2 separate regions of the Homo sapiens genome follow, and region 2 is linked to region 1. Evidence: fine-mapped expression QTL. A gene starts in region 1. The other region holds a variant in brackets. All regions are shown on one strand. Distances are between the middles of the regions.

The links. PIP is the estimated chance that this variant, and not a neighbour inherited with it, causes the effect.
Region 2: its variant is fine-mapped to the expression of ELAC2 in CD4 T cells (BLUEPRINT, PIP 0.95).

What each region holds. Positions count from the first base shown.
Region 1 is chr17:13,016,049-13,021,388 of GRCh38, forward strand. It overlaps ELAC2 (elaC ribonuclease Z 2), which reads right to left and starts at 1,979. Exons shown (of 24, transcript NM_018127.7): 1 at 1,655-1,979; 2 at 1,023-1,073; 3 at 814-884. The coding sequence starts at 1,899. RefSeq lists enhancers at 1,295-1,795, 1,307-1,416, 1,437-1,496 and a silencer at 2,017-2,096.
Region 2 is chr17:12,987,988-12,993,360 of GRCh38, forward strand. It overlaps ARHGAP44 (Rho GTPase activating protein 44), which reads left to right. Exons shown (of 21, transcript NM_014859.6): 21 at 2,045-3,656. The coding sequence ends at 2,184. ELAC2 (elaC ribonuclease Z 2) reads right to left here. Exons shown (of 24, transcript NM_018127.7): 24 at 3,625-5,058. The coding sequence ends at 4,831. Among named protein-coding and RNA genes, the nearest start is that of ELAC2, 27 kb to the right of the region's middle. The variant C/A (reference allele first, on the strand shown) is at 2,896.

The sequences.
Region 1 (5,340 bases):
CTAGGGTGAAGCAGCAAGGCACCCAGTGTGCAAAATGTAAGGAATCATGCAAGTGAAGGGCTGGCACCCTAAGTGCCTCACCCTAGTCTCAGCCCTGAGAAGGGAGACTGGTCTAACACTTCACTCCTTCCGGTCCATGCCACCAAGCCCACACAATTTGGCTGCAACACAATCCTGACCTTCCGGTTGATAGACATAAATGACAGGGTAATCTGGACAGTGGGTATGTGTGTGGCTGCCAATGTGCCAATGGCGTCTGCGGTAAACATATTAACTGTAATCACCACTGCTAGACTCTCCAGTTTACTGCCACAAATCTCTGTCCCCGCAACGCAAGAAACTAAGTGGATGGTAACACTTAAGAGGTGGTATCCATATTAAAATCTGTTCTCCTGAGTCACAGCTTTTAATGCTCTGTGCTGCTGCTGACTGGGCTGGTATAAAAAGAATTCCAGGCCAGGTGCGGTGGCTCATGCCTGTAATCCCAGCACTCTGGGAGGCCGAGACAGGAGGATCGCAGAAGTTTGAGACCAGCCTGGGCAACATAGCAAAACCCCGTCGCTACAAAACATACAAAAAAAATTAGCCAGGTGTGATGGGGCACACGTGTGGTCCCAGCTATTTGGGAGGCTGAGGTGAGGGGATCACCTGAGCCCAGAAGGCAAAGGTTGCAGTGAGCCAAGATCACGCCACTGACAAAAAAAAAAAAAAAAAAAAAAGTAGCTGCCCACCCCAGACTTGGAAAAATGGTAAAGCCGGTTAAAATCCCAGAGACTTCCCACCAGCCTCTGACACTGCAAAGAATATACTCACCACTTAAGCCCCCAACATTAGACCAGTGCATTCGTGTCAGGAATATGTTGTCCAGGCGAGCAACCTTTAACCTAAGAATGAAAAAACATTTAAACAGGATAACATGAACAGAACAAGGACCACTTTTGCTATAAAAAACAACTGGCCTCTCATTTCGGCTTTCAAGCCCCGTAATCAACTCCCCCTCCGAAAGCAAGAGACTGACTCACTTGTGCTCCTGCATGAGTCTCTGAACGCCTTCTCCACAGTTGAAGAGATACCTACAAGACAAACATTACACAAGACATTCAGAAGGTTTTATTCTGTAAACTCTCTGACACCAATTAGATGTTTTATTGTAGACTCTGGAAAAAAAAAAAAGAAAAAAAAATTAAAAGTCCACGTTGGACTACCGAGCCACATTTATGCTGGTGGGTTTTGAGCCCTCCTTAGCAGAGGTGGAGAGGAGTGGGGGCCTGTGTGTGTGGGTGCTAGGACAAAATGAGTCCTTTCTCCACCACCGGCTACACACCAGATCTGTCCACCCCACACGCTAACAACGACACACTGGCCTTGGGGTGCACGGAAGAGGGTGGAGCTCCGAAAGTGCTGACAGCCAGGCCGGGGCCCAAGGGTTGGGAAAAGGACGCTCAGACCCAGGCCTGAAGTTCTTCACAGATCCGCAGAAATCACATGGATGCAAAGAATCTCGGATTTCCCACCCACCATAACTCCACGAACCCCCGCAACAGTGAACCACATGTGTGAAGCAGGGAAGCCGAAGCCCTGGGAGGTGCCCCGATGCTCAGAGGCTGCGCCGCACTGAGGGCCCAGCGGGACGGGGCGTGGCTCGTTGACTGACCGGTTGAACTCGGAGAAGACGTAGAGCGCGGCGCCCGAGTCCCGGCTACCCGCTGCCACCACCTGCAGGTACACGGTGTTTGGGCCGCCGGAGCACCCCGACGGTCCGCGCTTCTCTCGCGTGCGCAGGTGCCGCAGCGGGTCCTTGCGCGGCCGCTCGCGGCGGGCGGGTGCCTGCGATATGGTGCGTCCCTGCGACATGGTGCGTCCGGCCGCGGACCGCAGCAGCGAGCAAAGCGCCCACATGCGCCCGTCTCCACCAAAACTGAGAAAGCCGCCGGTCACCTACGCCCGCGTTTCCCGTGCACCACCTAGCCGCTCCGCATGGCGGATCCAGCCAATCAGCGCGCCGTGCACCGAGCTTCCCGCCTACGCGAGGCTGCTCATCCAATAGAAAGGAGCTTTACCGCTCGGGACTTGTCAATTGACAGTGGCCATAGAGTAGAGGAATACTAGAGCGTCTCAAGCGGCCCCGCCCCTAGTTCTGTTCCGGTTTGCCGGCCGCAATTTTTTCCGGAAGCTGTTTTTCTCCTGGGGCGGGACTTCCGGAAGCACAGTGCCAGGAAAAGCCTTCCTGGGGAAGGCGGGACCTAGGAGTTTGGAGTTTCGCTAAAACGCTCCTGTTCTCACCAGATAAGAGCTGTGTCCTCCGGGCACGTCAGTCCCTCAGAGCTTGAGTTAGAGGTGGTTGTAGTGGTTGTGAGGATTAAATGTGAGGAAATCAATTGTATTGAGCATTAGCATAAGCGCTTTGCTAATTTTATTTCCATTGTAATTCGTATGCATACATGTTAGAACTTGATCATTTTTACGTGGTGTCCCGAGCTTGTAGTCCCAGCTACTTGGGAGGCTGAGGCAGGAGAATCGCTTAAGCGCGGAGGCGGAGGTTGCGGTGAGTCGAAATCGCGCCACTGCACTCCAGCCTGGGTGACACCTCGAGACCCTGTCTCAAAACAAAACAAAACAAAACAAAAATTGTAGTGTTTTTTGGAAAGAAAAGCAAGAATAGAGGACAAGCTCTAAAGCAAGAGTCTTGGCTCATTTGTTAGCTGCGTGATCTTGACCTCTCAGAGCCTCAGCTTTCTTATGTGTAAAATGTAATAACAGCAATAACAGTATCTCCTACTTCAGAATATAGAATTCAGTCACCTGATAATATATCAATAGACCTTTGAGTGGCACTGTCACAGAAGAGGCACCCAGTAAATGATAGAAAATTAATACAAAATGTTTCAACTCCTAGACAATATAGCTGACCAGGGACATCACAGAGGTAGATGTCCCAATACCAGCTTTTTGAAAAAAACACCCAGTCCCCTCTTATGTAGCTAATGAGGATTTCTCACTGAAAGGGATATCAGTTAAAGCCGCTAGAAATACAGGGAGCTCCCTTAAAAGAGGAAGATAATTTACCTGGAAGCTCCACTCAAATATGATTTTTTAAAGATAATTTACCTGGAAGCTCCACTGACATATGATTTTTTTAAATAAATACTGAAAGATGTCACTTTTATTCAGGAAGTAAGGGAGATTCAAGTCATGTAGATTCCTACTCGAAAATCTTGACACCTGACTTTCCAGGATCACATTTTCATATGGAGACCAGTTTCCTCTTGGTTTCTTCAGTTAAGTCAAAACTACACGTTCCTCTTTCCCCATATATTTTTGCTCATTAGTGTATTTCTTGAGCTGTTTTCATTCAAATATGAAATTTTTTATGGAAGATTATCACCCACGGTGTGAAAACGTTTTGTACTTGAAATAACCATCCCAGTGAGGGTCAGGAAAACACTTCAGATCTACTTTACACAGTTAGAGGGCGTTACAAACTGAAAAGATTATCATACCACCATCTCCATAAGTATTTGAAATAAAAATGATAGTTTTTAAAAGTTGCTTAAAGCCTGGGCACCGTGGCACATATCTGTAATCCCAGCACTTTGGGAGGCCAAGGCGGGAGAATAGCTTCAGGCTAGTAGTTCAAAACCTGCTCTGTGGCCAGGCATGGTGGCTTATGCCTGTAATCCCAGCACTTTGGGAGGCCGAGGCAGGTGGATCACCTGAGGTCAGGAGTTCGAGACCAGCCTGGCCAACATGATGAAACCCCGTCTCTACTAAAAACACAAAAATTAGCCGGGAGTGGTTGCATGGGCCTGTAATCCCAGCTACTGGGGAGGTTGAGGCAGGAGAATCACTTGAACCCCAGAGACAGAGGTTGCAGTGAGCCAAGATCACACCATTGCACTCCAGCCTGGGTGACAGAGGGAGATTCCATCTCAAAAACAAACAAACAAACCAGCTCTGGCAACAAAGCGAGACCTCATCTCTACCAAAAAATACTAAAAAATTTAAAAATAAGTAAAAATTAGCTGGACATGGTGGCACACACCTGTTGTCCCAGCTACTCTGAAGGCTGAGACAGGAGGATCACATGAACCCAGGGGTTTGAGGCTGCAGTGAGCTATGATCATACCACTTTACTCCAGCCTGGCTGACAGAGTGAGACACTCTCTACAAAAAAAAAAAAAAAAAAAAAAGAAAAAGAAAATTAATTCATTAAAACTACTTTTAAAAAGTGTAGTGCAATAAATAAAATACTGATTTTTTTCCTGTGATGACTGCTTTGATCCTTTTAAAAAATATATCAAATTTCACAAACAAAAATACATTGGTTCCTCTATTTTATTGGTGCCCTATGTGCATATCTATCTGTTGGGTAATCTCAAACTACTTATCTCAAAATTATAGGAGGAATCACTTTTGGTCATCGACTTATATAAAATTCTGAGGGCTGGATGCTATTTAGGTTGTTTCTAGGGCCCAGTGTACTTTCTGCACTTATGCTTTGGGTCATATTTTTATTCCTGGTATATGAAGACAATAGCTAGTACTTCTTCAATCTGAGGTTATACTGGAATGTAAATTTCATGAGCCTGGGATTTGTCTATCTGGTCCTCTGCTGTATCATTAGCTCCTAGGACAGAGTCTGGCTTGTGGCAGACAATAAATACTAGGAAATTAGAAGCAAGCCAGTAGCTTAAATGAGGTTTTCAGTTTACAACTAAGCAGGGCCTAAAATTGAATCAAGACAACAATGTATGTGTTTTCTGAAGGGGATTGGTGTGACTGGTACCTCCAAAAGGATAGTTCAGAGAGTCTGAAACAGAAAAGTGTCTCTGGACTTGCTGGAGTAGAGGCAGCCTGACCATCGGGACAGCAGAGAAAGTGGAAATCGAGGCGACAGACTTTCAGAAGTCAGTGATATTAACAATTAATATAATACAGCCACTTCCTCTTGCTTTGAGTCTCTTTTTGTTATCCATTTTGTATATGGGCAGCTTGTGGCTTGAAATCACTTTCAGTCCTTTTGTTGGTCACGGTTGTGTTTAGTAAGAATAGCCTGTCTCTGCTCCTTGCAGTGGCTGCTGGGTGGCTCAATGGGAGTGGAACCTCACACTCACAGGTGTGGGTCCTGGGTACTGGCCCTGCTGGGGGTGCTTTGGTTCATTTCCCATTGCCTCTCCATCCATGTAGACTGTCCACATTCAGTAGTTAGGCTGAGCTTCTCTGAATGGTGGTCAGCCTCCAAAAGGATGAAATGAAATTGCAATGCTTCTGAAGAATTAGGCCCAGAAGTCAACGCAAGACACAGACAGCACCCACCTAGATTCAAAGGGAGGAAAATTA
Region 2 (5,373 bases), 28 kb before region 1:
TTTGGCCCATGGTCCTGCAGAGACTACCGAGGCGCACCAGGATATCTGGTGCTCACAGACAGGTCTCCTGGCGGGTGCTTCCCGAGTGTCCTGGAGACAAGCAGCCACTGTGTCCCTTTTCCCAGGAATGCTGATGAGGGCTTCTGCCCCTGAATCCCATTCCCTTGCATAGTGACTCCTCCCTTGGGGGTGTCTTTAAGGGAGCAGCAAGGATAAAGGTATGACAGCTCACACAAGTGCTTGTTCTGGGCCTGTCTAAATTCATCACCGCCCTGTATTATTCCCATTTGACTGCTGAGGCACAGGGAAGGTAGGAAACTTGTCCAAGGTCATGCTCTTCCTGCCTGACATATTTGGGATTTTTGAATCTAAGCAGGGGAGCTTGGTGCTCTTACCTGATAGCGAACCCTGCACAGTGAGGTGGGCCCCGGGCCACTCAGCCTCACACCTGTGTAGAGACATGACCCAAGTAGCTGGGGAAGGGCAGAGGTGGGTCTGAGGCCACCTGCTTCAGAGGAACAAGTGGCACTGGCTGTTCCTCCAGCCCCACGCCCCAAATCTCTGCTTCTCCATCAGGCAGCAAAACAAAGACTGGAAGGACGTGAGGGCTGCCTGGGGGTTGGGGCAAGGGAGGACCTTTGTTCAAGAGCTTCCATGTTTGTATGATGTCTTTCAGGACAGTGTCCAAATGTATGTCTGTACACTTAGTATGGTATTCCCCAGTCTGAACATGTGTTCCCTTCCTCTGCCTCCTGGAGTGCTGCTCCCAGCCTTGCAAAGCTAAGTGACGGCCAGAAACTAAGCAGGCAGGCCGGGCGTGGTTGCTCACGCCTGTAATCCCAAAACTTTGGGAGGCTGAAGTGGGTGAATCACCTGAGGTCATGAGTTCGAGACCAGCCTGGCCAACATGGTGAAACCCAATCTCTACTAAAAACACCAAAAAAAAAAAAAAAAAAAAAATTAGCCGGGCATGGTGGTGGGTGCCTGTAATCCCAGCTACTCGGGAGGCTGAGGCAGGAGAATCGCTTGAACCCAGGAGGCAGAGGTTGCAGTGAGCCGAGATTGTGCCATTGCACTCCAGTCTGTGTGACAAGAGCGAAACTCCACCCCCCCCAAAAAAAAAAAAAAAAAAAAAAAACTAAGCAGGCGGAGGAAGGGGACAGCATGACGAGAGTAAAGGACCCAGGGGATCTGTGGTTTTCTGGCTCTCTGGCTGTAGCACATCCTGGAGGAGTCAGCAAGCACAGCCTCGTCAGTGTCCCCCAGGGCGGCGGCTGCAGCAGCAAGGGGATTTTTTTTAACGTGGTGTGGCAAAGAGGCTTCGTGTCCACTCAGCTGCCAGTCTAAGGACTTCTGTCGTCTTTGCCGACTCAGAGACGTCCAGACACTGAGCTGTTATTTCAAGTACATTTCTCCTGTTCATCTTGCCGGGAAAAATGACCTTTTAATGCTCCTAATAAATAAGGATGTAACCAGAGGTGGGGGTTGTCCTGCAGTCAGGGACAGTTGGCACCAATGACAACCAGGGTCCTGAGGGAGACCTTCTACTCCACCCATGTCAGCCATCCAAAATGCAGCTGTTTCTTAGAGTGAGGACACTGGCTCAGGGTTCCCCATTCTCTCACAGGCTTGAGAGGAGAAAGGGGTCCACTGTCTCACGTCCTGTCCCTGCAGATTCTGGGGAATGAAATGCAGTCGTCTGATATAGATCCCCAAAAAGGTGTCATTGAGACCTACTCAGCATCCTTCTTATCAAGAATAAAGGACCCTGTGGCTTGGCAGGGGAGTGCTGTTCTGGCCTTCCTCTGAACCACAGTGGCGTATCCTGGGTGCTTTGGTTCTACGAACTTATGGGGTAGAAGCAAAGCAGGCATGAGCACAACCTGATCGACTGTGCAACACAATGCTTAAACCAACCTCCAAATGATCTATCCCTAGAATAGCAGCACCCCTGCCTCCTAAGGCTGACATTATTTGCCTACAACTAGGTTCTCATTTGCCGGGAAGCCTCCTTTCAACCACCTCTCTCTCTGCCGCCTTCCAGATCTTGTCCACTTTGATATTCCCTCGATCCACATAGAGCTCGGGTCGACGCTCCGCCTGAGTCCCCTGGAGCACATGCGGCGACACTCAGTAACTGACAAGAGGGACTCGGAGGAGGAGTCTGAGAGCACCGCCCTCTGACATGACACCGCCCATCCTGCCTCGCGTGTACATACATCACGGGCCCTAGGAACGCCGCCAGGAGCAGCGTCCATGAGCTTGCCAAGTGTTCTCTGCTGGCTCTTTCCTGCCACTGCCAACACGAGGTTGGAATTTGGCAGAAAATTGTGATCTCCAGTCCGTGTGGTGATGCTGGTGGTGCAGGTTTTGTTTGTTCCTTTCGGGTGGTGACTTCGGCCTTTTGTTTGACCTTTGCCTTTTGACTTTGTGCCTCTTTTGATCCACTTTCAGCCTCCATGCCAGAAAACACCCACCTCTCCATCCAAGGCTGGTCAGGAACGTCCTTTGCAGGGTCGGGGTGGTGCGGGAGAGGCTCACTTTGCCTGGTTAGACCCAAGGGCTGCTACCTTTTCCTTGGACGGCTCATGTCAGGTCTTGCAGGATCAGTTTAATGGCCACAGAAAGGAAGCAGGACAGCAGGGCCCCTCTCACCCACAACTGGACCAGGTCCAGGATTCTAGCAGTCCTGGGGCACTGACCTTTGCCAGCTACCTGGGGGAGGGCTTGCCACTGGAAAACCTTTCAGGCCGCCCCCATCAGTGGGCTCCAAAGTAAATGGCTGAAAACAAAAATGTTTCACTTCCTAACAGTTTTCCTTTTTCCACTGTGTGACTGAAAGCTCCTATATCATTTTATATTTCTGAATCTATAAAACAAAACAAACAAGCCTGA[C/A]AGTGTCTGGAGGAGCCAAAGGTGGCCTCCCTGTCCCCAAATATATTGGCTATATGAGAGTAATTTTACCCCTCTACGTACCTAAAGGCACCCAGTTCACTAGTCTGTGGGGTCCTGGAGCCTGTCTCTTCTTTCTGGAGGTTCAAACTGAATAGCAATAATTACGTTACCCAAAGCATGTGGAGGAAAAGTGAAACCAGCCACGGAGACGCTGGCCCACGGGCTCGGCCTGCGGTGTGGCCTGCTTTGCTCACCAGCGTCAGCCGCTCATTTCCTTCTCATGAAGTCCCATCTGGTCATGGGGACGAGGGCCGGGAGGGCACCGGGTAGCCTTTTCACACTTGGGGATTAGGGGAGTGAGAAAAGATTTGGGCCATGCATGCAAAGTCAAAGTTTAAAATTTTATCCTTTTCAAATAGATGATATAATATACCTATACATGATATAATATTTGTATATATGAAATCTCTCTATATTTGTTTAATTTGAGCCATTCAATCTAAACCAATGTACAGGTGTACAATGAAAAATTTAAATGCTTAGTTATTTTTCCCAACACAGTGTAAAGTCACCCTCCTCTGAGAGTGGGATGTGCAGAGTTTTGATGTTGCAGCTTTGCTCACTTCCTGGCAAGGGCAGGTCATGCCTCAATTTGTAATGGGAGTCTGGGGTAAGGGTGGGGGTTGAAAGTTGTTATCTTTAAATACATGTACAAATCGTTGTCAAAAGTAACGTTATTAAAATAGATTTATTATCCCTGAGCTTGGCATCTGTTCTTGCTTTAATAAACCTGCGGGGACATGGCCGTCAATCTCAAATGCACACCGGGATGGAGCCTGAAGGTCACCACCTGTGTAAAGCCAGGTCCCTGGCTGATCTCTCGCTTGCTTGTCTTTTGAGTTTTTAAAGCTCTTCTTTTTACATTCTCCTGGGTAGGGAATATACACAATAAATACTAGATTCAACTTACTTACTTACTTACTTACTTTACTTACTTACTTCCTTGGAAAATGCTCTCCATTTGTCGAGCACTAATCCACGTCTGTAAATCCCGCAAGGAGGACAATGGAAACCAGCCCCGTGTGCCATTTCTCAAAACCTTCGAGGGCAAAGTGATCCTCACTCCTCTCAGTATGGAAGCAACAACACAGCAAATCTATTGTCTCCACTTTTACCCAGAACCACCAGAAGACTTGCATTTCCCTGACCAATGACACCAGCCCAGCCAGGCTCTCACTGATTGATTTGATTGATTGATTGATTGATTGATAGAGAAAGCACGCCCTGCTGTGAGCTGGCACAGCTCGAGTTGTCAAAAAGACTTGGCGAATAAGGGTGGCTCTCTGAGGACAGGTTCCAGAGGTGCTCACTACGACGGGAGCTGACTTCTTCCAAGCCACCCGGGTACCAGGCAGCTGCCACACTACAGCACAGAGAGCCTTCTCCAAGGTGGTGCACAGCAGACCCTGCTCTGTAGCAGCAGCAGGAGGAAGCAAAAGAACTCACAATTGCAAACTCAATCTTTATTGCAGCTGAAATACTATTTTCGTTAAGTCTCGGACACTTAGACCCACTGATCCTGTTACTCTGCTTGTCTCTGGTGTGCAGGGAATCACTTTGCTGGATTAGAGGAAAGGTGCCGCCGTCTGTTTCCAAGACTTCTTTAAAAACTGCCTTGAAATGAAATTAGTTCATCTGCTTGCTTCCGTGTGGCAGCCTCCTGGCCCGCGGCTGTGCCAGGCACCAGTCCTAAGAGGCATCTATAGACTAGTGCTTATGTGGGAGCCCAAGCCTCGGCACAGCTCCATACCACCTATCCTGAGCTGCCTCCTGGGGGACCGTGCTCTTCAGCTTCTACCAGCAAGGAGGGCAGATACGGGTGCGTGCGTGGGGCAGAAGACACACAGCCTTCTGAGTTCAGGGTCTCCCAGATCTTCACTGGGCTCTGACCTTCTTGGCCTGTGGCTCCTCTGTGTGGGCCCGCTTCTGCTGAGGCTCCCCATCCTCCAGGCCGCCTGCCAGCTCCCTGGACAGGAGGGCCGCCCGCACCTGCCGCAGCTCCCGCTTCTCCCTGCGCTCCTCCATCTCCTCGATGTCGCCAGCAAACAGGGCTTTCAGTGGGGGAATCAGCTTGGGCATTGTTGGAAAGTCTCCAAAGCAGACCTAGAAGACACAATAGAAGACAAGGACATGTCTCAGAGGGGCAGGGGTGGGGGACAGGAGCTGGAAGGGATGCAGTCATGTGCTCACACAGCAGCGCCAACGCCCCTTCCTTGGCACAAGCCAACAGGCCACAGCTGAAATGGAAAAAAGAATGGCATGGAGGGAACCCTCTAAAGGGGCAGAGGCTCCCCAGGCCTGGCTAAGGGCCTCCGGAGAGGGAAGGGAGAGCAGTCCAGATGCTCTCAAAATCAAGCTCCTGAAAAACGAGGCCTGGCTCCGGCTCTGCCCCTTCATTCCGGAAGGCCAAGGGTCAGG